Homo sapiens: one gene and its partners. Changing the gene in region 3 together with the main gene of any one other region gives a genetic interaction. Each region holds a gene or a part of one and is shown on either strand. Other genes may lie near its edges. The genes, in order: ATM, ING3, KDM6A and HDAC2.

Region 1 (5,452 bases), on a different chromosome or scaffold from region 3:
AAGCAGGTTAAAAATGTTTTTCCTTGGTGGGTGGGAAAAAAAAAGTTTTTCCTCATCTGCTTTTGCCATACAACTATTTTAATAATCCCATGTAGGAAATGATCATCCTCTGTTTATTATTATTATTGCCATTATTGGAGCAAGTCACATTTATTGAGTACTTATATATGTCAGACACTTTGTAAAGGCTTTATATATATTAACTCATTTAATTCTCACAAGAATCCTATTAAATAAGTACTATTATTACCCCAATTTGCAGATTAGAAAACTGAGGTACAAGGAAGTTGGGTAACTCCAGACAGCACATACTTCAGGGCCAATACTATTAAGCAATATTTACACATATCATATTGGCACTCAGTGCTTTGGTATAATGATTTCTCTAATAACAGAAGATGCTATACAATGAGTGCCCAACATCAAAAAGTACAGTAAAGGCCGGGCGTGGTGGCTCACGCCTGTAATCCCAGCACTTTCAGAGGACAAGGCGGGTAGATTGCCTGAGCTCAGGAGTTCGAGACCAGTCTTGCCAACATGGTGAAACCCCATCTCTACTAAAAATACAAAAAAATTAGCTGGGCATGGTGGCATGTGCCTGTAATCCCAGCTACAAGGGAGGCTGAGGCAGGGGAATTGCTTGAACCAGGGAGGTGGAGGTTGCGGTGAGCCGATGTCGTACCACTGCACTCCAGCCTGGGTGACAGAGCAAGACTCCGTCTCAAAAAATAAATAAATAAATAAATAATAAAGCACAGTGAGCTGATATTCACTAAGCAGGTACATGTCTGTGGGACACCACTGTAGACAAACCTTGGGGACACCAATGCCTCTACTTTATCCAGTGTGTATGCTGGGTTTACAGCTGAAGTAGCAACATAAGTTTGCAAAAACCAACAGGTAATGTTAGATAAAATATTAGATGTGATATTTTCAAAGCATTTGGATTGACAACCTAATTGTCCCAACTTGCTTTTATTTTCTAATTTAGTTCTCTCATTCATTTCCTCTTCCCTTTTTTCACTTGTCATTTCAAATTTAGAGTAGCTATTTCATTCATTTCCCACATACCTTTCTTGAATTCTATAGGAAGTTAAAGGCTTAATACTGGGATATATTAAATGAATCGACCACATGATGGACTGATAGAATTGTGATATATAGGAAAAAGTTTCTAAACTTCATTTACAAATTAATTTTCAAGACTAGTTTTACAATATCTTGTTAATAAATTACTAATTTCAAGGCTCTAATAAAATTGTTATTAAAAATATTTTAAAGTACATTTGTGTTTTTTTAAATAACAGTAAAACACTAATCCAGCCAATAAAAAAAACAAACCGCTGCACAGCTGGCATCCAACTTCTTGATCATTTGCTTGAGAATACTCAGGGCAAGACTCTGCTCCTTTTTTGCCCAGAATACTTGTGCTTCTTCCAGCTGCCACTCAGAGACTCCACAGCTAACTGAATTGTACTGTTTAATTTGAAATATTGCCCTTTCAGGGAGCTGAAATGAAAATGACATATGGGAATAAATACTTTTACTACTGATACTACTACCATGAATAATAATAATAATGAAAGCAGCAACTACCATTCATTGAGGACTTAACTACTTGTCAGGGACTATCTTAAGGACCTCTCTGTCTGCATGACATCTCCCCACCCCACGTCTGCCTATCTGTCTGTCTGTCTGTCTCTCTCTATATGTATGTATGTGTATCTGTGTGTACATACACACAGTATATAAAATCACTGAATTGTTATCAATATAGTAAGTTACGTATCTTCTCATTTTATAACCAGGAAATTGAGGTTGAGAAAAGATTAAGTACCCTTGCCCAAGGCTTAAAAGTCAGATCTAATTCCAAAATGGGAACTCTTAAACAATTATTTTTACTATATATTAATAGAGATCTCTATCTCTTAATGACATTTCTTTTTCCCTCAGGCTTTCTGTTTTTTAAATAATAAAAGGAAAGTCAAGAGGTAAGATGACATAGTTTTAAATTGTATTTACCTGAGTGTTCTTGAAAGTTCTGGCCAGTATAGAGAGTTCTACAAGGTGTTTGGTGAGAATGTCCTTAATACATTCTCTTTGTGAGTTGTCCATTTCCTTTTCCATCAGGATCTCCAAAATGACTGTGCGTAGAGCCATGATAGGCTCCTGAAAACTAAAATCACTGTCCTTGAGAAGCTGGGAGTGTTTCTGCCACTTAATATATACTTCAGAGAGTTGTCTATGTGTGACTGATCTGAATGCCACGACATAGAGTTCATGTAAGCAAGAGAAATGAAAAAAAAAAAAAAAAAAACTATGTAAGTTCTGGAACTTACGATATAATATTATAATAATACAAAGGAACTTTTGTAGTGACAAGACTAGAACTTGTAAATAATCCTACATATGGATCAAAATTTAGAAAACTACAAAATGCTATGCGGTCAGAGCTCTTAAGAGTTATTAGCAGAGAGGTCACAGATGACAAACATCAAAAAAAATTTTTAATACTCTGACATTACAAAAAGCAGCCCTTCTAAATACTCTTCTGAAACAAGAACATATTCATCAGACCTATCATAAAGAATGCCTCCATCTTTAGTCCTGCTTCAATACTGCCTGTAGTAATGAGGACATGTCAGCAAGGAAATGAGGGACCCCCTACTGGGGATGACTTGATGCATAATTATAGCTGTCAAAAAAATCACAATCCAGTGAAGGAAAAGCTGGCATCTGGCAAAGGTTTCATTTACCAACATTATTAAAGGAACAGAAAAGGCATATTGCACAATTAGTTTATATGAATAGTATCCTTCCCAAATAACTGAACTATGAAATACTACCCAATCCTTCAGGGACATTTATTGAAAGAAATAAGAAAGAGGAAGCAGGGAGAGTAAGATGACAAAGTGATGACTAAGAAATGAAAGCTCTTTTAGTTGCTTGATAGGGAAGGAACAGTAACAAAAATGCTAGGAACCAAAACTTCAATTCCTCTCTAAATGACCCTACCACAGCAGGTCTCAAACTTTTTGCGGAACTCCTTTACAATCAAACAAATTATTGAAGACCCCAAAGAACTTTCGATCGTTGGACCATATCTACTGATATTAGATATGATATCATATTAGAAAGACTGAGAAAAATCTAAAATGTATTAATTTATTCAAAAATAATAAATCTACTATATATCATAAATAACAATTTTTAGGAAAAATAACTACAGTAGTTTCTCTGTATCTGCAGAAAATTGGTTCCAAGACACCTTGATAATGCTGATGTTCAAAGTCCCTTATTTAAAATGGCAGGGCATTTTCCTATTACACGTAACCTCTAGATTGTGCTTTTATTAAACATTTCCAAAAAGTATTACACATAACCTCTAGATTACGTGTAATAGGAGAATGTGCACAGGTTATACATAAATCTCTAATTACATATTATACCTACTATAATGTAAATGCTATGTAAATAAGTGTTATACCCTATTCTTTAAAATTTTTTTTTCAAATATTTTTGATCTGCGGTTGGTTGAATCCATAGATGGAAACCTGTAGATAAAGAATTTCAACTGTATACTTCCCAAAACAAAACAAAACTTAGTGAGCATGGCACTGTTTTGCATTTTTGCAAATCTCTTTAATGTCTGGATTAACAGAACGAGATGAATTCTTATCTCTGCTTCTGCATTTAGTTTGTTATTATTTAATGTTTTGGTTGATGTATATGAATGGAATGTAATCTGAGAGCATAAGCATTTGTGCACCAGTTCATCCAACCTTCCCTCTGCTTCTCTTCTTCCTATTTCTCTACCAAAGAAACAGCCAGATTATTCTTTAGGTGTTTCTTTTTAAAATTTATTTTTAATTTTTATGGATACATAATAGTTGTACATATTTATGAGGTACGTGTGATATTTTGATACAAGCATACAATGTGTAATGATCAAATTTGGGTAATTGAGATATCCATGATCTCAAACATTTATCATTTGTGTTGGAAACATTCCAAATCTTCTTTTGTAGCTATTTAAAAATATACAGTAAATTACTGTTAACTACAGTTGCCCTATTGTGCTATCAAACACTAGATCTTATTTCTTCTATTTACCTGTGTTTTTTCACTCATTAACCAGCCCCTCTTCATCCTCTCCCTCCACAACACCCTTCCCTGCCTCTGGTTACTACCATTCTATTCACTGTTTCTTAAAGAATTCTGTACTCTTTTCAGCAGGATAATCTTTCATTCAGAGGAAAAATTTCTTGATTTCTGGCAGTAAGTACTGCCAATGTACTTATGAATGAAAGCAGAAAAGACTTTTGTTCCTTTATTTTCCTCCTAAGCCACATTAATATGTATGTCTTCTGCTATGTCATTTTGAAAAAACTATTATTATTTTCTTCTGACTCTAAAATTTCCTTCTCTTTTCTACTTCCAAAACATATTCCAAATTTTATTTTTGCATAAAGGTAGAGTGACCTTAGTCATTTATATCCTCTTTCTTCCCTCGTATAATAATAATAGTAATTCAAAATAGCAGGGCTAAAAGGGGCTTTAGAGACCATCGAATACAAATCCCTGACTTTAGAAATGAGGAAACTGAGGACCCAAAACACTTTACTTTGTCATCCTGCCAGACTCAAGGCTGCCCTTACACAACTCTTCCACTTCTTTTATCTAGTAGCAAGGCAGAGATAAAATGACAGTAATGCAATGCAGTGCTAAAACCGAATGGAGTGTAACATGCTGTGCAAAAACATGAGGAAACAATTTTATCTGGGTGGGCCAGGGAAAAAGTTATAAAGAGAAAAGCACTTTTAAGCTGAATTTTTTAAACTTGAATTTTTACAGTGACTATTTTGGAAAATGTTTAATAAAAGCACAATTCTCTAGGGCTAATCAACTTATATCTTGATAAAAGGAAAGAATTTAGATCTACAGCATCCTGAGTAACTATACTATTTCATCTTCCAAAATCCCTGGATCATTTCCCTCTCACCATTATAAGAAGCAATTCCTTCTGAACACCTTTTACAAATTAACTGACATCCACTATCCACTGAATGTTTACTAAACATAATTATCAGTCACCAGAAGAGAAAACATTGGGGGCCGGGCATGGTGGCTAACGCCTGCAATCCCAGCACTTTGGGAGGCTGAAGCGGGTGGATCACCTGAGGTCAGGAGTTCGAGGCCAGGCTGACCAACAAGGCGAAACCCCGTCTCTATTAAAAGTAGAAAAATTAGCCAGGCATTGTCGGGGCACCTATAATCCCAGCTACTCGGGAGGCTGAGGCAGGAGAATCGCTTGAACCTGGGAGGTGGAGACTGCAGTGAGCTGAGATTATACCATGACACTCCAGCCTGGGCAACAGAGCGAGACTTGGTCTCAAAAAAACATAAAAAGAAAAAAAAGAAAACAAAACAAAAACACTAGGTATACAACAAT
Region 2 (8,129 bases), on a different chromosome or scaffold from region 3:
GCCTAGCATTTGAACTTTCATTATGTATAAACACCCAGCATATTCAGTTACCTGGGATAGACAGTGATAAATGCTATTAGGTTTTCATATTTAAAGCTTATACAGTCATCCCAAGTCTCATATACAAAATCTAGGGATATTTTTACACCATCAGTTTTTGGGACCCAAGACTAAGAATGAAGACGCCTTGCTTGCTGTTAATCAAAATGAAAAATCTTGTTTAAAAAAAAAAAATCACCAGGATATAATTTGCATTGCATTAATTTACCTTGAAACACATGGCAAAATAAAGGGTAATAAATGAAAAGCAGTTCCATAAAATGATTTATCTTAATGAATAAAAGAAGATAAAAAGAAGTCATGTATTAACAAACTCAATTTATGACTCTAGAAAAATTAAAAACAACTCTAACACTTTTTAAAGACTTGACACCTTCAAAGTATGGCACTATAAAATGAAAACCGCATGTCTCCCTACCTCTGCAAGGTTAATTTTAATCCGTTATATCCTGCCTTTAACATAGAGAGGCCTGGCTGAAGTGTCAAGTAGACCAAGTGTTCAGTAAAGGTATAGGGCTACTGTAACAATAAAACTTACTTGCTCTTTCGACCACTCCGTGAGTCGGCTGCTGATGAACTGGCATTCTGTGTTAATGTTGTCATAAGTGCCGAAGATGATGAATAGCCAACTGTTTCCCTGGCCATTGAAAATTCTTTTCCCAACTGAAAGTCATTATTCTTAAATGCTTCATAACTGGCTTTTAAACTTGATGTTCTTCGTCCCTCCTTCATCTTAAATAGACATTCATTGATAGCATCAATATATGTAAATATGTAGATTTTCTTTTTCAAGTTTTACAAATTATAGTTTTATTTTGGTTTATCAAATGTTAATTTATATTGTTTAAACTATTATTTTCATCACTGGAATTTAAGCTTTTTTTTTTTTTTTTTTTTGAGGTGGAGTTTCAATCTGTCGCTTGGGCTGGAGTCTAGTGGCACGATTTTGGCTCGCTGCAACCTCCACCTCTCAGGTTCAAGCAATTCTCCTGCCATAGCCTACCGAGTAGCTGGGATTACAGGCACCCACCAGGCACCCAGCTAATTTTTTTGTATTTTTAGTAGAAATGGAGTTTCACCATGTTGACCAGGCTGGTTTTGAACTCCTGACCTCAAGTGATCCACCTGCCTCGGCCTATCAAAGAGCTGGGATTACAGGTGTGAGTCACCATGCCTGGCCTAACCTTTTTCATTTAAAGATTTAAAATAAGATTTTACACAGTTAGAATATAAACTATGGGATGGGCAGCTTCTTAATTTGGAATATAGGCAAACTATACAGAAGTGAACAAACTCAAGATGACCTAAGTCCAAGGCTACAGGGGAAGCCTTGGAACTGGCAGAAAGAACGAAGAACTATGCTAGCATGTGCTGTGGACTGCAGTCAAGAACATGGGCAACATGAGCAGTTATTGTGAGAAGGGTCTGCATGTAATCCGCATGATAAACCTATTTTTTAGTTTTCATTATCAATCAGGCAATTCCTATGTATTATTTCATTAAATAAAATATCACATATCGTGAAATCATGACTTAAAAATGAAAATATACAACGTTAGAAAACTATTTGTTCACATCCCGTTATTTCTATTAGGTTTCCAATGATTCCGACAAAATGTAACATTTTGTCTCTAAACCCTTTACTTTTTACCTGAGCTGTAGCCTGAACTGCTTGAGCAGCTGCCATGGTAATTGCCCCTGCACCAGTTCCTGAAGATAACGAGCCAATGTTATAGGATCCCAGAGGTTGGGAGGAATTCACATTGTAGGCATTGTTAGAAGAGGCTGTGGAATTATTATTTCGACAACCTGTGTAGATGTAAAAAAGAAATAAAAATGGTTGCAGAGAACATAATGTTAGTGAGTCTAAATTACATTATTTCCCAGCACAGACATATAATCATTAAAATTTTTAATGTCACTTGTACATTAAGTCAACTGAATAATGTATTTGGTTTTCCTTTTTCTTCTTTCTCCATATGTATACTTTAACCAGGTAAAGAAACTGTATGATTCATTAATCCTGAAACACTTTATTTCCCCTTACTCTAACACAAACAAACAAAGCAATCATATTTAAGAAAATTAACTTACCTAGTGTATTTTCCTTAGAGGCATCTGACGTAAGGGTGGATAGAAGAGCTTCAGATTTAAATTTCTTTTCAGGAATATGATCTGTTGTCGTATGGTGAGAAGTTGGATTATATTTCCTTTCTAAATATAAATAAAAAATTCATGTGTTTTTAAACTTTAGAGAACTATGGACAAGGCATAATACTTATATCCAGTTAAAATGTGAAACAGTATGATCTGGGTTCCTCATAAAATACAGAACATGATGTTTCCTCAGAAGGCAGGACAAGCAGAACTCTGTGTCACATGTTTATTAAGAGTAGACTTCTCCACCATTTAAAAAACTTCTAGCAAAGTACTAAAGATAACCCAAGATACACCATGGGCTCACATACAATGTGAGGGAAATTTTGTTTTCAAAACACAATCTACCACTTAAAATAGTTTCCCACCAAATTGATGTGTCAAAAGATGTACTGATATAGTCATTTTTTGACTGTTACCAACCAGCCAGCCAGTCATCTAACTAACAATTCATCCACTCACTGACTTACCAACCATTCAGACTTAATTATATGCCAAACATTAGGTTAAGCACTGGAGAAGCAAGGATGAAAAAGACAAAGGGCCTATTACAAAATAGCTTATTGTTTGGCTCAGTTGAAAAGCTCCCTAAGGAGAATGCTCAGTTGAAAAGCTCCCTAAGGAGAATCAGGTATGTGTATGAAGGGAATATATGCTATTAGTACTATACATTCTCCTTCTACGCATTTAAGAGAAAACAGAATACTCATTTCCGAATCACATATGCTCCCCCCAAGGAAAAAGACAAGTCTGCCAGTACTTGCAATGAAAAAAAAAGAAGGGATTTATTTCTCAATTGGTTGTGTAGAGTTAAAAAAAGAGAACATATAGGTGATATAATAAGGTTTTCATTGTTTTTAAAACTTAGCTGCACTACACCAAACTTACTTTCCACTGGAGTATGTGAATGAGCATGGTGATTGTTCACTGGCTGTGAAGGAGTGTCTAATTCCAAAGATCCTAAAAGAAGAGAGGCACAGAGATACACCACCATTAAATGTCACCGCAGAACTTCACATGTCACTCAACTACAGGCAATGAGTTCCCTTACCCAGCAGAGGACTAGCAAGTTCTGATGCATATGCCTGTATTTATTTTAGCCAGACATGTTAGAGGATCACCACTGTCCATCCCACACTGAGTTATCCTCTCTCTAAACAATAAGTTATCCTTTTCCCAATATTAATCTTAAGTACAAAATGGCTCAAGGCATACTCGTGTCTAATTAGGGAATTCACCATAGTGGGTGCCATATAAATGGATGAATGGACATTGTAATCTCATTACTGGTAAGAGTCAACCTAGTTTTACTGAGTTGAAGACCTTTTAATGGGAGATTCTGAAGTTCTACGTGATGGGGGACATTACTATATGAAAAAAATTATTTGATCATTAAAATGACATTATGATAATAAAGACTTCCTAAAAGAAGTTAGGGATTTTGTTCGCAAAAAGTGAGGAATAGAATCTCTAACACCAAGCTTTAAAATACCTCTAAATACATTTTTCTGGGTTTATTTTTGATCCCTTGAGATGAAATTATGGCAGGGCACAGGGTGGAGCAGTTTTTATAACTTGATCCAATTTTGTTTCATATGTCTGTGTCCTTAGAGAGGATGCTTTATTAACCTTCCTGCAGTACTGAATAGGCATGAATTATCATTACTCACAGCTATCATCAGCATTTTTAAAAAATCAAAGCAGATACAGAATTTTTAATTTTGTCTCAAAATACTTATTATCTTTATATAGGGTTCCTCCAGAAGAAAAGTATCACAAATAAATAGGATGATTATCTAAAGTGATGGATCTACTTTTGAACACAAAAATGCAACTATGGATACCAAGACAGATCTGTGATTGGCTTCCCTAGCTGACTTCTAGTGAGTAGAGAGATACATAGATTGGCACTGTAAAGAAATCTTTCATCTGTGTGTAGAAACAGGTACATATTCTTACTGTTGAAATGCACCAAGAAAAAGAAGGTTTGTAAGTTTTAATTAAATTCTAGTAGAAATTAGCCATAATATTAATTTGGTTCAATTAACATCTAGTGAGTGCCTACTCTACACCTAGTACCACACTAACTGCTTTTATGTACATTACCTATTTAGGTTGAAGAAATGCTAAATTAGTTAAGGAAACAGTGCTCATGCTTCCATTTTTGGGAAGTCACACCAAAGAAGTGACAGGGGTAAGTTATAGCAGGAGATCAAATAGAGCCTTGCAAAGAAATATCAAAATGGTTTCTTGCTGCTAAGGGAAAGAAGAAAACACTTCTTTAAGAAAAAGAGGTAGTGTTATGAAACCAATGTGAGTCTTTTTCAGTATATGCAGTTAAGGAAAAGCCATAAAGTAATTCTTAAGAAGAGAAACTAACAACTTTCCTCAAAGCTTAAGTGTATAAAGAGGCAGAGTAAAGTCAACACACTTAATGCAAGATGGTTAATTTGTCTCCCGATGGTTACATTTCTTTAAATTTGTTCTTACCACTCAACTTACTAGTATATGTGGATATAAAATGATTTAATATGTTGTTTCATAAAGAGTGAGTGGATGATATCCTATATTATCTCTCTCAGTATGCATGACCCAAACATTTCCAACTGTTAGGGTCCAAGCTATCTGGCCTGGATGCCACCATCCATTGAAGGGCAGGATTTCAAAAGCCTCTGTGGGACAAGGTCTTCTCAGCGATTTGCACATGTACTGTCCAATATTGATGGAAAACTGTAAATTTTACTTACGCCTCTCTAATATTTCTGTAATTCCAGCATTATCAGCTTCCAGCTCCATTTTAAACTTAGCCAGTTCCTGATCCAGCTTTCTCAAGTGTCGATCTACCTGTTTCAAAGAAGATCAAAGATAACCACCAAAATTTGGGACACTGTTAAAGTGTCAGCTTAATGAGGAAACCTAAATTTTTGTTTCTTTTAGTGAATCTGCTTAGTATCCTTGAGCAAGTCAATTAATCTATGCCTCAGAGGTTTTTAATCTATAAAATGAGGGTGTTAGGCTAAATAATCTCCCAAGTCTCCTTCAATAAATTTTAAGTTCTAAGACCCAGACTCTCAACTTGTTAGGAAATGTTCTATACTCCATTTTCAGAAGTCAGGACATGAAAATTAAAGCAAAACTGATTAGGGATTAGAGAATGGGAGGAGGGGATGGTGGAGGCTGGTCACTTTTCATAATATGCCCTGTGATTACTTAGAGCCTAATCTCCTCCTGCTTATAAGGCCATCATCCACACTGTCATACGATAAAAGCTATTATTTAGAATGATGAAAGATCCTCAGTCTACAAAGAAGTTCCTATATTCTATACATCTATTACTCTAAGGCATGAGAGTGAATCATAATGCTTGTAAACATTTATGTGAAGAGGTGAAACAAAAGGGATTGTTAGCCAGAAAACTCCATTCCTCAAAGGATCTGGTTAAAATTATTTTATTTATAATACTATTTCCCTAGTTAACTTGGCAAAATTTTATTTTGTCACTGAGAGATCTTTTGACTAATTTCAGAAAATTATATGACACTTCAAACTAACAAAAAATGTCTTAATGTATTTTTTAAACTTAATATTAAATATTTTAATATTTTTTCAAACTCATTACTTTGAAGTGAAACCAAAAAATACACAAATTCTTTGAAAAATATTCATGTCACATTATTGATAACATCCTTTTCTAAGTCTAGTTTCCCACTGGATTACTGCTAGAATTAGAAATAACTTTCTTACAGATATCAACATGTGCTATGATACTCTACCAGGGCAACATTTTAAGTAAGGTTTAGAATTAAATAATGTGTAACTAACATGAGGAAGAAGGGGAGAAAGGTAGCAAAACACAATGTGCATGGGTTAGATGCCTATGAAGAGGAGGTAATGTGCTTGACGCATCAGATGACCTATCTTTTCTAGCCCTCGATCTGATCTTTTGAAGTTATTACTGTCTCTACTTTATAGGTGAAGAAATTAAGGCTCGGAAGGGTTACTTAAGTAATATGCCCAAGGTCATATAGCTAATGCATTACAGAAACCAAATTTAACTTTATTTGTAACAAATTCTGCTTTGCCATTTACCTGACATTGACCTCTGAACTTTCTGCATGCAGAAAACAACTGTTTTTTTTTTGAAAAACATTCTTCAGAATAATATAACTCAAGTATAAAAACTAGTAATATTGTCCTATTATTTGTATTTTATATATTAACAACAATCATTAGGGTGTTGGTTTGTGATTTTTTCAAAAACTGAAAGCCAGTTTTCCTTCTACCTTTACACACACATTACTTTTCAGAGTTCTAGAATATTTAAAAACCTATAACATCACATATTATGGATACTTGCTCCTATTCAAAGAATCTGCAGGTAATTGAGCATCCTTTAATGGAACTTCCTTTCCAATAATAGTGTGAACACAGACGTCTGTTATTTGAGCATACCTCTTTCATTGTCAAAATTTAATCTCAAGGGAAATCAGAAAAAATATTCATATTTAAGTTCCAAGACCACTAATGCAACGAAAACACTCCATTGCTTTTTGTACCTACAATTATACTAATAATAAATATTGAGCTATTACGTGCTTGGTGCTGGATTAAATGGAGGATATATGAAGAATGGAAGAGAATCATTGCCTTCATAGGAATTAGAATTTAGCTGACAAATCAAGATTTATATATGATTTTTAATATAATAAGGGATAAAAATATAGTCTAGATGTCACAAATAAGCAACAGTTCAAAAAGAGTCAGAAGTTGTACATAAAAAAGTAACACTGGTAGACACGAAGGAGGTACGAATTAAGACGGTGAAGATGGATTGTATTCAAATAGAAGGAAAAAAGGAATCACAATAAAAAATGTAGAGACAGAAAGACAAACAGTATGCTTAGAGAAAAACAAAGTATGATGTAGCGTGTAATATGTATATAAAGCACAGTGAGCAAGAATGTTAGGTTGAGGGGGTAGTGTTAGGGTGAGATAAAGACCTTTCTTTTTCATACCATACACCTTGCCCTAACTCACTTCACCTCTGCATTTAAGGATTGTTTCATTTTATTAAATATATTATTGATAAAGTTCACTACATATGAAAATGTTAAAAATAATGACAAGACTTTCAATACTAGATAGCTCAGAAAAGGCACTAGAACCTAAAGGGTTAATAACTCTAAAAACCAAATTCATAGTTAAAATAAACAAAGACAGAAAAGCCTTAACCACTTGTGGTAGGCATCTTTATAAGACGGCTTCCAATCATTCTTACTTCCTCATATGTAAAAGAGATTATGACCTGATTAATATTATAAGCAATTATTAGGCAATGAGCATTATTTTTCTTCTATTTACTACTGCTGTACTAAATCAAATTAGAAGTTGGAAAGTCCCATTGACCACAAGAATTAACTTAAGCTATAAAGCACTAGGATATTTAAACAATATTAAACAGCCATAATAAGAGCTGTGAACTTGCCTGAAATCCATCATGTGCATTCCCTCAACCTACATGATTCTGAACGGTTACAGCACCTCTTCTAGCTGATCACCATGTTGTCCCCACAGGCATCAAGCAAAGCAAGGATGTAAGTTACCTCACCCTTCCACAAACATCTGCTTTCATAAGACTGATTTACAATAGTAAAGAGGGTACTGATCCAATTGAGAGATTTTCCATTAGCCACAGATTCCTAAAACAGGGCTAACCACAGAGTCTAATTATTTCTTTTTTTCCCAGTTAATGTCAACAAGTGCTATAAACAAAGTTTCCTTGCCCTATAATCCCAAATCATATTCTACAACCCCAAATCATAACAGCTTTAAGTTTAAACTCCTATAATTTTTCTAGCCTCTTTAAAGACAAAGGATATTCTACCAACATTACTTGTTAACACACTCATGAT
Region 3 (8,129 bases):
GCTACCCAATAAACTTTTATCAGTGGCTGCCTCTGAAAAAAAGAACTAAGTAAGTGAGAGATGACGTAGGAATTTTTTTTTTGAGACAGAGTCTGACTCTGTCACCCAGGCTGGAATGCAGTGGTGTGATCTCAGCTCACTGCAACTCTGCCTCTGGGTTCAAGCGATTCTCCTGCCTCAGCCTCCCAAGTAGCCAGGACTACAGGCGCCCGCCACCATGCCCGGCTAATTTTTTTTGTATTTTTAGTAGAGACGGGGTTTCACTATGTTGGCCAGGCTGGTCTCGAACTCCTGACCATGTGATCTGCCCGCCTTGGCCCCTGAAAGTGCTGGGATCACAGGCGTGAGCCACCACGCCCAGCCAGAATTTTTTTTTTTTAATATTTGGCTATACTACTCTTCTCTGTATTGTTCCAATTTTAGTATATGTACTGCCAAAGCAAGCACAGAGGGTGATTTTCACTGTACCATCCTTTCTGTCACTTTTCAATTTTGTACTATGTGCAAGTATACCTATATTCAAAAAATTGCATGAAGGTATTTCAAAAGTCAAAGACAATATCATGGCTGCAATTAGGATGGGGGCAGTGGGGATGGAGGGAAACGGATTTGAGATTTGAAATGTAGGCCAGGCACAACGGCTCATGCCTGTAATCCCAGCACTTTGGAGGCCAAGGCCAGAAGATCACTTGTGTTCCAGAGTTCAAGACCAGCCTGGGCAACAAAGAAGGACCTCATCTCTACAAAAAAAAAAAAAAATTAGCTGCACGTGCTGGCACATGCCTATAGTCCCACGTAGCTGGAGTGGGAGGATCCACTTGAGCCTGGGAGGTCAGGCTGTAGTGAGCAGTGATCATGCCAATGCACTCAGCATGGGTAACAAAGTGAGACTTTGTCTCAAAAAAAAAAAAAAAATAGAAATGATGAGGTCGGGTGATTAGGAATTGAGAAAAAGAGATGTCAACAACTATTCCAAGGTTTCTGGCATGGGTAGTGGTAAGTGACATTTACTAAGACAAGGAATATTAAAGACAATTATAAATTCAGTTTGCATATGTTCAGTTTGAGATACCTTCAAGATACCAAGGTAGTCAAGTAGGCAGTCAAACATGTATGTAAATTGGGAACAGGGTGAGTAAAGAGGACCTAAAACACAGCATCCTTGCAAAGACTGAGATGTTGTCAGATACAAAGTCAAAGTAGCAAGGATGTTATGAAAGCCAAGAAAAGGCCTTTTTCAAGAGCTCTTAAGTCTGCCTCCATCTCACCCCATTCCTAAACCACAGCCTTAGTTTAAACTCGTCTCTTCCAAGACGTTACCATTATCCAAGATATTATCTTATACTGAGCACCTTTCATGCACCAAGCCCAATGCCACACACTTTACATTTTTTCCCCTAACACAAAATGCAATAGTCTGCGGGAAATGTATTACTACTTCTACTTTACAGATAAGAAAACTGAGGCTCTGAAAGATGCTTGCTTGCCCAAGGATCACACATCTAGTAAGTGGTAGGAACAGAATTCTATCCTAAAATTCATGCATTGCTATCTACCCATCGGTACTGAAGTTCCTTTCCCTTACACCATATCCTTCTCACAGTGGCCAGTAATATTCCCATAAAACCTACTTCTGGTCATGTCACTTCACCTGATTAGAGAGTTCAGTTTAACAATGCCCCAAAACATCCTACGGCCTATAGTGATGGGGCTTCTCACATGTTCAGTTATCTTTTCCCAATCCCACTGAAACATGCTACCCTCTACCCATACCTGACTATTCACAATTCCTCAAACACCATTTAACTTTATACCTCTAACTCTTTTTTTTTTTTTTTTTTTTTTTTTTGAGATAGAGTTTCACTCTTGTTGCCCAAGCTGGAGTGCAGTGGTGCAATCTCGGCTCACCACAACCTCCACCTCCCGGGTTCAAGCTATTCTCCTGCCTCAGCCTCCCAAGTAGCTGGAATTACAGGCATGCGCCACCACACCCGGTTAATTTTGTATTTTTAGTAGAGATGGGGTTTATCCATGTTGGTCAGGCTGGTCTCGAACTCCCGACCTCAGGTGATCCACCAGCCTCGGCCTCCCAAAGTGCTGGGATTACAACAGGCGTGAGCCTCCACGCTCAGTTTATACTTCTAACTCTTTACCCTCTTTTTCCTCTTGCTACATCTACATGTCTGGTAAATTTCTACATGTTTCATAACCAAGGCTAAATGCTGAATCTTTGTGCAGTTTCCCTCAGTCACTTCTCCAGTCAAAACTAACTGCTCCAGGCCAGGCGGGGTGGCTCACGCTTGTAATCCCAGAACTTTGGGAGACAAAGACGGGAGGATCACTTGAGGCCAAGAGTTCAAGACCAGCCTGGCCAACATGGTGAAACCCCATCTCTACTAAAAATCAAAAAAATTAGCTAGGCATGGTGGCGCACGCTTGTAATCCTAGCTATTCGGGAGGCTGAAGCAGGAGGATCACTTGAACCTGGGAGGTGGAGGTTGCAGTGAGCCAAGATCACACCACTGCACTCCAGCCTGGACGACAGAGCGAGACTCTGTCTCAAAAAACAAACTAACTGCTCCAGCCAGCACAGTGGCTCACACCTGTAATCCCAGGACCTATGGAGGCTGACACGGGCAGATACCTTGAGCCCAGGAGTTAGAGACCAGTCTGGGCAACATAATGAAACCCTGTCTCTACAAAAAAATACAAAAAAGTAGCCAGGCTTGGTGGTTCACGCTTATAGTCCCAGCTACTCAAGAGGCTGAGACAGGAGAATTGCTTGAGCCTGGGAGGCAGAGGTTGCAGTGAGCCGAGATAGCATCGCTGCACTCAGCCTGGGTGACAGCTGACATAGTGAGACCCTGCCTCAAAAAAAAAAAAAAACTTAACTGCTCCAAAATGTGGAGAACCGTTGAAAACAGGAGTTCATTAAACTACCTTCAATACCTGTACATACTTTAAATGATGCATAATAAAAAGTTTTAAATGTTTTAATTACTCCATCATTTCAGAGCTCACAGCACTTTGCATGTATCTTTATTATTACACTTAATACATCATATGATCACTCAGTCTGTCAGCCTCTCCCAACAGACTGACTGCAGGACAGAGGCCAGGTCTTATTGGTTGCCCCAGAACCTGACACAATCCCTCACCCACAGCAGCTCAACAAATGTTTCACCAATCAATCAAGCAAAGCAAAAGCTTTTGTAGTTCTCATTCTGATATTTGAAATTCAGAAACCTAAAATATTTATTTAACTACTGTATCTTGAAAACAAATTTTCCCTAAAAATAAAAACTATCCAGACTCAAGCAACTATGATTCATAAAGTTCTCAGGAAAAATTACCTCTTGTGTCACATATTATGTAATATTCTATCACAGAACACTATAGCAGTATCAAAATACAAACAAAATTCACATCACATACTCAGCTAAACATGTTTTCTACTCATTTTCCAAGCAATTATTTCTTAACTTCCATACAGCAAAAAACAAGGTCCACAGATATTTGAGATTAAGAAATTATTTTACATGTAATAAGGGCATCACGGTTATGTTTCAGAAACAAACATCTATGGATTAAATGCTGTGACTGATTGCTGAGATGTGCTTCAAAATAACATGAGTGAGGGGCAAAATATATATAGATGAAACAGGACTGGTCATGAGTTGCAAACTATTAAAGCTGGGTGATGGTTGATTTGCAATACTTTCTGAAAACACTGAAAATTTTTCCTAATAAACTTTTTTTTCAAAAAGAGAGAAAAATCTAATGAACACGTAATAAATTTGTAGTTTAAAAATAACCCTTTGTCTAAAACAATTTCTTCCACTGTTCTAAACTAAAATGAATTAGATGACCTTATATAATACCCTTAAGTATAACCCCAACTTTCTTCCTGAGAATAAACTTAGCAGCAGCATCTTCTATTTATTCTAACAAAGGCAAAATACTCAGCCAGGCATGGTGGCTCACGCTTGTAATCCCAGCACTTCAGGAGGCCGACGCGGGGGGATCAACTGAGGTCAGGAGTTGGAGACCAGCCTGGCGAACACAGTGAAACCCCATCTCTACTAATAATACAAAAATTAGCTAGGCGTGGTGGTGCACACCTGTAATGTCAGCTACTCAGGAGGCTGAGGAAGGAGAATCGCTCGAACCCTGGAGACGGAGGTTGCAGTGAGTCGAGATTGCGACATTGCACTGCAGCCTGGGCAACAAAAGTGAAATGCCATCTCAAAAAAAAAAAAAAGACAAAATAGTACCACAGAGAAAATTACAAAAAGCATACAAGAATACATTCACAATGGAACACCACCAACAGTTTTAATAATATACAGAAGTAAACAAATGATGGAATATAAGGAAGAAATAGGTAAGAGAAAAAATAATAAAAGCTTATAGAAGAAAGTTGCAAGCAGTCTACAAATTAGCTCAGAAACCTAAAACTGTCTAACAAGGGATTACTCCCACCCTTCCAGGTGACAGTTTTTTTGTTGTTTTTTGTTTTTGAGATGGTGTCTTGCTCTGTCGCCAGGCTGGAGTTCAGTGGCACGATCTCGGCTCACTGCAATCTCCATCTCCTGGGTTCAAGCAATATTCTCCTGCCTCAGCCTCTCGAGTAGCTGGGATTACAGGTACGCGCCATCACACCCAGATAATTTTTGTATTTTTAGTAGAGACGGGGTTTCACCATGTTAGCCAGGCTGGTCTCGAGCTCCTGACCTCGTGATGCCCGCCTCGGCCTCCCAAAGTGCTGGGATTACAGGCATGCGCCACCGCGCCCGGCCCAGGTTACAGTTCTTAATCAGGTCCCAAGTATCAGCCTGTGCCAAATCAGACTCAAAATAAAGTCAGCAATGAAATGCTAAAGATCAAAATGAAGAATGAGCGCAGTGACTGTCACAAAGCCATCTAAAACACAAAGAAATAGGACCTAATTGGGTACATCTCTACTCCATTCACTCCTACCCTCACTGAAGGAACATCAAGTTCAAAAGTATCCCAACTTCAGACTGTAATTAAAATGCAAGAAAGGCCTTTACAAGTATCTCTTCTAACTATAGACATGGTAGTTTAAACCCATTTTTAGTCAACCAAAATATAACATTCTGGTGTACTATCAGAGTACTTTTTTTTGTTTGTTTGTTTGAGATGGAGACATGCTCTGTTGCCCAGGCTGGAGTGCAGTGGCGCGATCTCGGCTCACTGCAACCTCCGCCTCCTTGGTTCAAACAATTCTCCTGCCTCAGCCTCCCAAGTAGCTGGGATTACAGGCGCCCACCACCACGCCTGGCTAATTTTTTGTGTTTTTAGTGGAGATGAGGTTTTGCCACTTTGGCCAGGCTGGTCTCGAACTCCTGACCTCAGTTGATCCATCCGCCTCAGTCTCCCAAAGTGCTGGGATTACAGGCACGAGCCACCACGCCTGGCCTTATTGTATTATTTTTAAGGTAATATATGTCTACGGTGTTAAAAAAAAAAAAAAAAGCAGTACAGAAATCTATAAAACAGTTTAAAATCTCCCCTCCTTCTCACCCCAAAAGTGTCTTGTACTCCAAGATGACCATTAAGTCATCCTGAGTGTCCTTCCAAACTCTGTCAGAGAATTTAAATTGACCCATGAACACTCATTTAAGAATCTCAAGTTAAGAACTCATAACAAGGTAAATATTACTACAAAATGAAATCAAAGAAGGACAGAACACACAGCAGATCATCCTTTGAACATCTGCTAAAAGCTAAAATGTGATTTTTTTTTTTTTTTTTTGAGATGAAGTCTCGCTCTGTCGCCCAGGCTGGAGTGCAGTGGCACCATCTCAGCTCACTGCAACCTCTGCCTCCCAGGTTCAAGCAATTCTCCTGTCTCAGCCTCCCAAGTAGCTGGGACTACAGGTGCACGCCACCACGCCCGGCTAATTTTTATATTTTTAGTAGAGACGTGGTTTCACCATATTGGTCAGGCTGGTCTCAAACTCCTGACCTCAAGTGATCCGCCCACCTCAGCCTCCCAAAGTGCTGGGACTACAGGTGTGAGCCACCACACCCAGCCTTAAAATGTGATTTTTAAATCATGTTTTCCTAAACAAAATTATAAGATGCCTTGCTAACATCTAAATCAAGAAATACCATCTCCAAGAAACACAATCAACAAACAATCCCCATCTTTAAGAGCCATTCTAACTTGTGAATTGTTAAATTTACCTTTCTCATAAACTTTCAGAATATTTCACATTTTTCTTCTCCCAAAGATGGTCCTGTGTTAGTCACCCTTAAACTTATCTCACCCCTCTTAAAGAATTTAAGTTCAACACGGGCAAGAAATATCTATGCTATCTTCATACTATCTACATAGAAGGCTTGCACATAGTGTACATTAATATACTGTTTTAATTTACTGTCACGATAATTTACAAACCAATGTGGAAAACTGATAAAATTATATGTGAAGTTTCAATATGAGTACTTAAGACTGTCAATTATGCATTCATTAAATAAACTTTATTAATTAACTAATCTACAAATAATACATGTGAGTCCTAAACAGCCTAACCACCATTTCAATTCTTAGACAAGCTGGTAGTGTTTTCTTAACATAAATTAGCTCTCTAGATAACACATTTCAAAAATATTATTAATAATGCAGTGTTAGCAGTCATTAACATCAATTTCAAAGAGTTCAACGCATCACAATGAATTTCAAAGTAAAAATAAACTTAACAGAAATCCTTTCAAAGATGCAGAATATTGGTACTATGTAAACAAAAACTAAATGTTACATAATTTAAGTCAGAAAAAGACTTACTCTGCAGCTAGCCAAGCAATGAACTTTCATTTTGGTTTAAAGTGCATGACCTATCACTTCACCTAAGTCACAAAAATTCATCTCTCAGGCAGTTTTTCTTAACAGCTTAAGATATTGGCCAGGTGCGGCGGCTCACACCTGCAAAGCCAGCACTTTAGGAGGCCATGGTGGGCTGATCACGTGAGGTCAGGAGTTTGAGACCAGTCTGGCCAACACGGTGAAACCCCACCTCTAATAAAAACACAAAAATTAGCCGGGTGTGGTGGCAGGCACCTGTAATCCCAGCTACGCAAGAGGCTGAGGCATAAGAATCACTTGAACCTGGAAGACCGAGGTTGCAGTGAGCCGAGATCACTCTACTGCACTCCAGCCTGGGGGATAGTGTGAGACTGTCTCAAATTAAAAAAAAAAACAAAAAGTATCTAGAGGTGGCAGTCAAATGCTCTCTAGTTATTTCAATTTGTAATTGATTCGACAGAAAGAACTATTTACTGAAAAAGAAAACCAGAACTTTAAAAGTGCCTGTTTATGTATTGCTGCAGTTCTAATTTGTGACCAAATATGCAAATATGTTCTATAATCTTAGTATATCTTTATTACCAGGCACAAATCAAAACTTTAGGAAATACCAAGTATATAAGACTTTGTCCACGTAAAAAATTAAGACTGCAAGTGTTCAGAAGACAATCTTCCAAACTAGAAAACTCTTTAAAACACAAAGCATGACATTATTTCCATGGCTACTTTCTTTTTTTGTTTGTTTTTGTTTTTTGAGACAGGCTCTCATGACTTTTCTAACCAAAACACTAGCCATCTTTAGCACTGGAAATGAATTTACAGGTTGAGCATCCCTAATCTGAAAATCCAAAATCTAAAACTTTTTGGGTACCAACATGACACTCAAAGGAAATGCTCATTGGAGCATTTTGGAATTCAGATTTTCAGATTAGGGATGCTCAACTGGTATGTATTCTGCAAATATTCTGAAACCCAAAAAAATCCCAAATCCAAAACACATCTGGTTCCAAGCATTTTGGATAAAGGATACTCAACCTGTATGCCTTTAAGTGCCAGCAAACAAAAAACACACATAAATGAGAATGTTTTTAATCAACATCCAAATATTACAATTTAAAAAAGCCACCTCTAGAACTGACCTAATAATTTCCCCTACCAAACACGCCAGCAAACCAAATTTAAGAAAATATGTTTCAATGGATCTTAAACTACTTCTATTATCAAAAAAATTTAAAACACCAACTGTTTTAATGCTAATATGTCCTACGGAAAAAAGCACATACATTTTTAAGTGATA
Region 4 (8,129 bases), on a different chromosome or scaffold from region 3:
CAATTTCTGAGCAAGTGTGTTTGAAAAAAAAAAAAAGCAGTAATTAACACTTGTTGAGTGCTTACTAGAAGGCACTATTAAGTACTTCACATATCTTTTAATCTTGTCAATAACCTTATGATGTGGGTATTATTACATTATTCCTATTGTATAATAGTAAAGAAGGATGAGAAACAGACAAGTCAGGTATTATTGCCTAAGTCACATAGCCAGCAAGTGGAGGAGCTAGATTCAAACTCTGGCAGGGCAGCTCACAGCTAATGTTCTTAAGTAATAACAACAGGGAATGTCAAGGACACTTACAGATTCACTAGAAATGGCAGGGTGAAGGCTGAAAAAAAGACATAATATGAAATATAAATATTTTAAATAAAGGCTTAGGGTCTTGGTTAATTTAAAGAAAATGAACACAAGAAACTGTACCTAATATATCAGAGTAATTTACTTTTTACTAATAGGGTCCTCAAATCGTATACGAATACGCATAGCTTTCAACAAGTTTCTCTGTTGAAATTTAGGGACCCCAGTCCCACAAAGAATACACAAAGAACCTAAATGATACATGTATACAGGGCAGCCAAGCTACAGATAATTTTTTGGTTTACCAAGAATTCTTCTAGCTGGGCGTGGAGGCTCACACCCGTAATCCCAGTACTTCGGGAGGCCGAGGCGGGCAGATCACGAAGTCAAGAGATCGAGACCTTCCTGACAAACATTGTGAAACCCCGTCTCTACTAAAAATACAAAAAAAAAAGCCAGGTGTGGTGGCATGCGCCTGTAGTCCCAGCTGCTCAGGAGGCTGAGGCAGGAGAATCACTTGAACCCAGGAGGCGGAGGTTGCAGTGAGCCGAGATCGTGCCACTGCACTCCAGCCTGGGTGACAGAGCGAGACTCTGTATCAAAAAAAAAAAAAAAAAAGAATTCTTCTAAAATATAAAGGCGTTATAAAATAACCATCTCCAACTTTTTCCCACTAATTCTGTATCTCACAATTCTCTAGATGGCTACTTTGTAGGCATCCACTTTGTTTTCTTTTTGAGATGGAGTTTCGCTCTTGTCACCCAGGCTGGAGTGCGGTGATGTGATCTTGGCTCACTGCAACCTCCACCTCTGGGGTTCAAGCAATTCTCCTGCCTCAGCCTCCCAAGTAGCTGGGATTACAAGCGCCCACCACCATACCCGGCTAATTTTTGTATTTTTAGTAGTGACGGGGTATCTCCATATTTGCCAGGCTTGTCTCAAACTCCTGACCTCAGATGATCTGCCCGCCTCAGCCTCCCAAAGTGCTGGGATTACAGATGTGAGCCACTGTGCCCAGCCCACTTTTTCATAAAGTATAAAAAGGCTAAGAAGTTTTAAGACCCTACAATTTTTATTCATCATTTAAATGGTCAGTAATGTATTAATAATTTGGGCATTTTAAATGTTACTGATTTGCATCAAAATACAGATTATCCCTAATCCAAAAATTTGATATCCAAAATGTTCCAAAATCTGAACTGTTTTGAGCACCAACTTAATAGTCAAGGAAATGCTAACTGGAGCATGTCAAATTTTTGATTTTCGAATTAGGGATGCTAACTGGTAAATAATTACAAATATTGCAAAACCTCCCCAAATCTGAAATACTTCTGGTCCCAAGAATTCAGATAAAGGATATTCAACCTGTACATAAAAATACTTTACCAATGAAATAAACATTCAGAAAAATCAGCTCAAGGTGGTTCCTTGAACACAACAAACTTTAATTGTCAATGCAAAGAAATTACTGTAAAGAATTATTTATCTGCAAAATTTTACAAATTGCTCACTCTTCAAGAAACTAACAGAATGGAAGTGTCTACTAAGGTCCACAATCTCTTATCCATATTCCTTCAAATTAGATATGTTTCAAATTTTACACTTTTTCAGATTTTGTAGAGATAATATGGTACACCTGCCATATATTATGTAATAGCCTAGAGTTTGGGTGGCATGATATAATCAAACATTAATATTTCTACAGCAAAAAAGTGTGAATATTCACGGTATTCACAGAGGAATAAAGATCATAAATAGCCTCACATTGATTCAGGTTAAGATTTTGATTCCAAATGAGTTACCAAAATTTTTTTCAATTTTCAGGTCATTTTGGATTTCAGAACTGTGAAATGTACCTTTAGCCACAAAGATAAGTTGACTGCAAAAAGAGACTCAGGAAAAAAAAAACAAGAGAAAAGAAAAAAGTTTATTATTTTCATCTTCCAGACTACTTAGCCCACTATCCATTTTTTATACATATTAACACATCTTTAATACATATTTCAAGGAGGTTATTCCTCCTTGAGACATTCGGAGCCTTGGCTTCCATAATACCATTTTCTTGGGATTTTACTTGTACCCCAAGGCCACTCCTCCACCAACCTTTAAACATCAAGGGTTTTCAGTTCAGCCATTCATTTAATAAATCAAGAGCCTACCATGTGCCAAGCAGGTACTGTTCTAAGGGTTTGGGTTCATCAGTGAACAATAGTTCTGCCCTAAATTCTCTTCTCTCGGGAGTTAAGTCCTGGGACCAGTCGTCTGTCTATGCTGTATCTTTTTCAGTCTCAATACTTCACCTGATATAAGCTGAGAAATCCCAAATTTCTATGTCTAGACTCTCCTCTCTGGATTATAAACTCACAGAGGTTAACTCTCTTCTCAGTCTTTTCACTTGAATTCAATAAGGATCTCAAATATAAGATGTTCAAAACAGAGCTCTTTATTTGTATTCCCAATCTTAGTGAGTAGTACCACATACCACCTAACTGCTCAATCCAGAAACTTAGGAGTCATCCTTCATTCTCTAACACCATTCCTCAGCTCCAACTCCATTTCTAATCCATCAAAAAGTTCTATTGGTTTGAGGCCCAAATCTCTCTTAAATATGTCTATTTCTATCTAAAATGCAACCATTACATTTTATATGGACCAATATGTGTTCAATTCTTGCTTCCAGCCTATATTCCACAACTCCTTACCAATTATTTTGAGAGAATGCATTCTATTTGAGAAACTTTCAATGGCTTTCCACCTCTGGGTAAAGTCAAATTTCTTACTACACAGTTTTGTGCAGTCCCACTTTTTACTGCCTAACATGGGACTCCACATTTTCCTTGTCTTCCTTCCCATTAAGTGCACCAAGTTCTATTAATAACTATCTGGCTTTGCTATTTGTAATATCTTATGTAGTAAACTCTTTTTAAGGCTGGCCCATTCTCTTCCTTCAGGTCTTCCCTTTTCTGATTACACTATCAAAGGTCCCCTCTCTTTTACTTTTTTTGTTTTTTTTTTTGAGACAGAGTCTTGCTCTTGCCACCCACCCAGGCTGGAGTGCAATGGCATGATCTCGGCTCACTGCAACCTCTCTGCCTCCCGGGTTCAAGCGATTCTCCTGCCTCAGCCTCCCAAGTAGCTGGGATTACAGGCACCCGTCACCATGCCCAGCTAACTTTTTTTTGTATTTTTAGTAGAGAGAGGGTTTCGCCATGTTGGCCAGGCTGGTCTCAAACTCCTGACCTTGTGATCTGCCCGCCTCGGCTTCCCAAAGTGCTGGGATTATAGGCGTGAGCCACTGCACCCGGCCCCCTCTCTTACTTTATACCTGCAGTCTTTTATTTCCTTCTTAGGACTTGAGCAATCTTTTGTCTATTTGGCACACAGTAGGAACTTTAAGCCTATTTGATATGTCTGAACCCAAAGCTGGCTTAATGAACAAGTAACAATAAGCAGACTGCTACTGAAATACAGAGGAATAAGGCTTAATAACCAGTACAAAAAAATCCTTAGACTTGATTTGAATTCTTCCAAGTTTGAATTTATTAACATTCCCTAAGAGATGCCTTCTCCAATCCCAAGTGTTTTCCTTTAAGGACTTGTCAACAGAAGCATTTAAAGTTTTTGTTAAGGAGTTTTGTTTGTTTGGTAGCAGAGGAAACACTTTGAAAAGGAAAAAAGAAAAATAAAGATTCCGGATGTTGAACTCTCCTTGAACATTAAAACTACAGTCAGTGTGGAAAAGGAAAAGTGGTAGACTGCACCAAACAAATGTGAATCTGTTTTCATCTAAACAATACCAAAAATGCCAAAATGCCACCCATCCTACCTAAATGTAGTTCAGAGTAGTTTCAAGAATTAGAGGGAACGTTATATGAAAGCGTTCTATCTATAAGAATAAGGAATTGGCCAGGCACAGTGGCTCACGCCTGTAATCCCAGCACTTAGGGAGGCTGAGGTGGGTGGATCACCCCAGGTCAGGAGTTCGAGACCAGCCTGGCCAACATGGTAAAACCCCCATCTCTACTAAAAAATACAAAAATTAGCCAGGGGTGGTGGCACGTGCCTGTAATCTCAACTACTTGGGAGGCTGAGGCAAGAGAATCACTTGAACCCGGGAGGGTAGTGGAGGTTGCAGTGAGCTGGGATCACGCCACTGCACTCCAGCCTGGGCAATAAGAGCAAAATTCCATCTCAAAAAAAAAAAAAAAGTATAAGGAATTAATAATTTATTCATCACTAATTAAAAAAAAAAGCTACGTTTTTAAATGTAGTTGGCGAAGATACAAACACAAGCAAAACAGACAGACTGTCCTAATGAAGCTTATGTTATAGTGAGGAGAGAGACAAAAGTTATATGGTACAACCAAAAGGAAGAAAAATAAGGCAATAACAGGGACTTAGGTAATAGGAGAAAGCATCTCTGATGAGGTAAAATTTGAAAGAAAAGAGAGGCAAAAGATTTCTGGGGAAAGAGAAGTATAGGAAAATTTCAGTCTTATTTAGTCATGTTTTATTGTGCAATTAGTATTACTGGTATTTATGAACTGCTGCTATAATTAATTTAGCACTTATTTGCCTCCAAAGAAATTATTACCTATTTCACGGATAATAAAGATTTATACCACAGCTAAGAACCCATGTAGTTGTATTAAAGGTTATTCAGCAAAAGACTTTGGTACTACTCATAAATACAAGTCTAAGAAAATCTGACAATCGTTGGCTGCCAAGTAGAATTTCTATAATTTGCTGAAGAAGGAGTACGTTGGGAGGTATCATCTTGGTAACTTTTTTTTTTGAGACGGAGTTTCGCTCTTGTTGCCCATGGCACTATCTTGGCTCACTGCAACCTGCACCTCCTGGGTTCAAGCCATTCTCCTGCCTCAGCCTCCCGAGTAACTGGGACTACTGGTGCCTGCCACCACGCCTGGCTAATTTTTGTATTTTTAGTAGAGACGGGGTTTCGCCATGTTGGCCAGGCTCTTCTCAAACTCCCGACCTCAGGTGATTTGCCTGCCTCAGTCTCCCAAAGTGCTGAGATTATAGGCATGAGCCACCACACCTGGCCTAATCTTGATAACTTTTGTATTTATATAGTTTTATCTGTATACAGTCTTTGAGTGTTTTTTTCTGGACCACTTGTCTCCAAAACTGATTATGCATCCCTCTCAGAGGAGGAAAAAATAGAGCACAGAGAAATTTGTGTATAGTTACATAAATTAGGTATATAAACCCTATTATACTGTATACACCATAAAAACAAGCACTAAATATGTTTGGCCTCAAGATTAATTCAAAACAAAGCATAAACATGTCTAGATACAGTATTAAAAATGTGAGTGGTATAACTAGAGCCTAACACAGCTTAGCTGCTAATTATATTTAAGTAGAGAAAAATCACATCGTTTTAAGGCCCAGAAGGGATCTTAGTGACTATCTAATTAGCTGTATCATTTTACAGATTCTTGATGATCTTCTAGTGTATAAAGAAGGAACATGATTCAGAAGTATGTTTTTGGGAATTTGGAGGCATGGATCAATAGCTACAGTCAGAGAAGTAATAACTTCTCTTACTTTTCTTCAAAGGTTTAAGGATACCTAATCCATCAATGTCTGAAGGTTCCCTTGGGACCAACGTTTCAGTGACCTAAAGGGTTACCTGAAGATTACATAACGTGCAGAGAACAATATGTATATATTTAAAAGTTCTTTCATTAAGATGCAAACAGCCTCAGTGGCAGACATTCTGTGTGGCCAAGAGGCTCCGTGTGCCTAACAGCCCCAGGAAGCCTAAAGGTAGGATTCCTATGGTTATAGAATTTGCTACTTCCGTCCTTTTCTTTTTCACTCACTTTCTTCCTTCTACTTCCTTTACCAAGAAGTTAAAACCATCTAACCTAGGCTAGCAGATAATTCAGACCCTATTACTACAGATATAACCCATTCCCAATCCAATCCATGTTATATACCTTAAAGTCACGATTCTTTGATACAGAAGCTCCTTTCCTTGCATTCTCTTCTCACAATAAAAAAAGAATTAGTATTGCTACTTTTGTAAGCTGACAAAACAATGTTCTCTGGTAATAAAAATATAAGTTTTTGGATGAGGTCAGCACACTATCACATATTAATAATTAGCATAATATAAACATTAATAATCTCTGCAAAATATTTTAATTCCCTCCCACAAAAATTAAAAGAGTATGTGAAACATAAGCAACTAGGAACTCCACTTTAACAAACGAGTCACAGACAAAAGACAAAATAACCCACCAGAGATTTCCAAACTATCAGCTATTCACTTGTTGCTGGCCATCACGTAAGCAGGTGAATGGGCTACAATAAAGTATCATATTAAGTCACAATCACAAGACAAATATTTCCACCCTACTTATCAAGCTTGCATCCTTTCCCGGGTACCCGTGCCTGCTCCCATTCCCACAACGAAGGTTATCATAAATGGGCCCAGGACAAGAGCGCTGTTCAGAAACTGCTACTCAAGTGTACCCTCCTGGTTCTAGGGTTCCATTGTGGTGACAACAAATTACAAGCAGCTTACTTCCTCAGAGCCCATCACTACCAACACCAACTGACAGCTTCGAGAAGGACCTCAGTACCACTTTCCCTAACCAAAATTTTCCTCTTTACTCCAAGCCCTGACAAGGATAAATCTCTAAACTTTAGAAACAATGTAATTTTACAAATTAACTTATACGCAGGGTTACTTCCTTTCCAATTTGATCAGGGAATGCAGGGCAAGAATAACCCAAAATATGCAATGTAAATCATGTTGAAATTAAAATGTATTTCCATCTCCACCCCTCCACGATGGCATAATTTCAAATCAACTTATATAATGCATATCTAGTCCTCTGAAAAATCATTTTTAAAAGTAGGGCTGTTATTATTCTGTCCTAGCTATCGCAGATCAATTTAGATTTGTTCTGTAAGATTTCAGATTTTCCCCAAATGACACAGGTGGTTATTTTATATGTATCAGTCATTAAAAGATTAATCCTTTTTAACTAAAAAGAGACAGTACGGTCATTTACAAGTTAAAGTAGATTTATTCTGAGCTGGTGCTCTGGGGTCTTACTTCTCTAAAATTTTGTGATTTACAATACACCACATGTAGGAAACAGCTTCCAAAATTTGTATTGCTTCCTACAAATCAGACAGGACTTTCAGGAGAAGGAGCCTAGGATAGATTCTCTGTTAAATTTTGGAATCCCTTCTCTCAAGAGTAACCTACTATAAACTATTTACCAAGCCTTTGTGAAATCTGTATAACAGGTTACTACTCCATTGAGCAAGAAAACACAGGAAACAGGATTCGAAGATTTAATGTTACTGCTCATACTCCAAATTATAGAATGCTTAAGATAATTAAATTATCTGACTTTTATAATTCACTACACGGTGACCTCAAATTTACCTCATTAGAATATTTAGTACTTCTGCACTTCTCCCACTTCTCAAAGTTTTCCCATACCAGGATTCCCCACCACCTAGGAACAGCCTTTGCAAGATACCAATGCTCTCTAAATCCCCAAAGCAGGGTCTATTTCCTGATCGAACAAAGAGCAACAAAGAAGTGGGTGGTAACCACCTCTCTGAGGCAAGCCAGGACCCATGGAGTCTGATCTACAACACAAGCAGTAGCAGTTCCACATCTCCCTACCACCTCTTATTTCCTACGAAGTCTTTCTGCCTGAAACTGGAAAACCCGAACTATTATTGAGGAAGTGAAGCCCTTCCATTTGAATCCTGAGAAAGACGCGCTCAAAGAACCCAGCGAACAAAGGAGAGGGTTGGAGCCCACGCAAAACATG

What was found.
Region 1: changes in KDM6A (region 3) and ATM together harm fitness more than expected from each alone (negative genetic interaction), as found in Homo sapiens cells (one large-scale study listed by BioGRID).
Region 2: changes in KDM6A (region 3) and ING3 together harm fitness more than expected from each alone (negative genetic interaction), as found in Homo sapiens cells (one large-scale study listed by BioGRID).
Region 4: changes in KDM6A (region 3) and HDAC2 together harm fitness more than expected from each alone (negative genetic interaction), as found in Homo sapiens cells (one large-scale study listed by BioGRID).

The regions. Positions count from the first base shown.
Region 1 is NC_000011.10:108,322,115-108,327,566, reverse strand, and holds part of ATM (serine-protein kinase ATM), read right to left. Parts: intron 2,258-5,452; coding exon 2,023-2,257; intron 1,510-2,022; coding exon 1,342-1,509; intron 1-1,341.
Region 2 is NC_000007.14:120,961,674-120,969,802, reverse strand, and holds part of ING3 (inhibitor of growth protein 3), read right to left. Parts: intron 5,062-8,129; coding exon 4,965-5,061; intron 4,548-4,964; exon of another isoform or gene 4,332-4,547; intron 4,101-4,331; exon of another isoform or gene 3,970-4,100; intron 3,178-3,969; coding exon 3,106-3,177; intron 2,275-3,105; coding exon 2,155-2,274; intron 1,870-2,154; coding exon 1,712-1,869; intron 793-1,711; coding exon 599-792; intron 1-598. UniProt on the Homo sapiens protein: Component of the NuA4 histone acetyltransferase (HAT) complex which is involved in transcriptional activation of select genes principally by acetylation of nucleosomal histones H4 and H2A.
Region 3 is NC_000023.11:44,877,823-44,885,951, reverse strand, and holds part of KDM6A (lysine-specific demethylase 6A), read right to left. Parts: intron 1-8,129. UniProt on the Homo sapiens protein: Histone demethylase that specifically demethylates 'Lys-27' of histone H3, thereby playing a central role in histone code. Demethylates trimethylated and dimethylated but not monomethylated H3 'Lys-27'.
Region 4 is NC_000006.12:113,962,064-113,970,192, forward strand, and holds part of HDAC2 (histone deacetylase 2), read right to left. Parts: exon of another isoform or gene 7,638-8,129; intron 6,597-7,637; exon of another isoform or gene 6,571-6,596; intron 332-6,570; exon of another isoform or gene 304-331; intron 1-303. UniProt on the Homo sapiens protein: Histone deacetylase that catalyzes the deacetylation of lysine residues on the N-terminal part of the core histones (H2A, H2B, H3 and H4).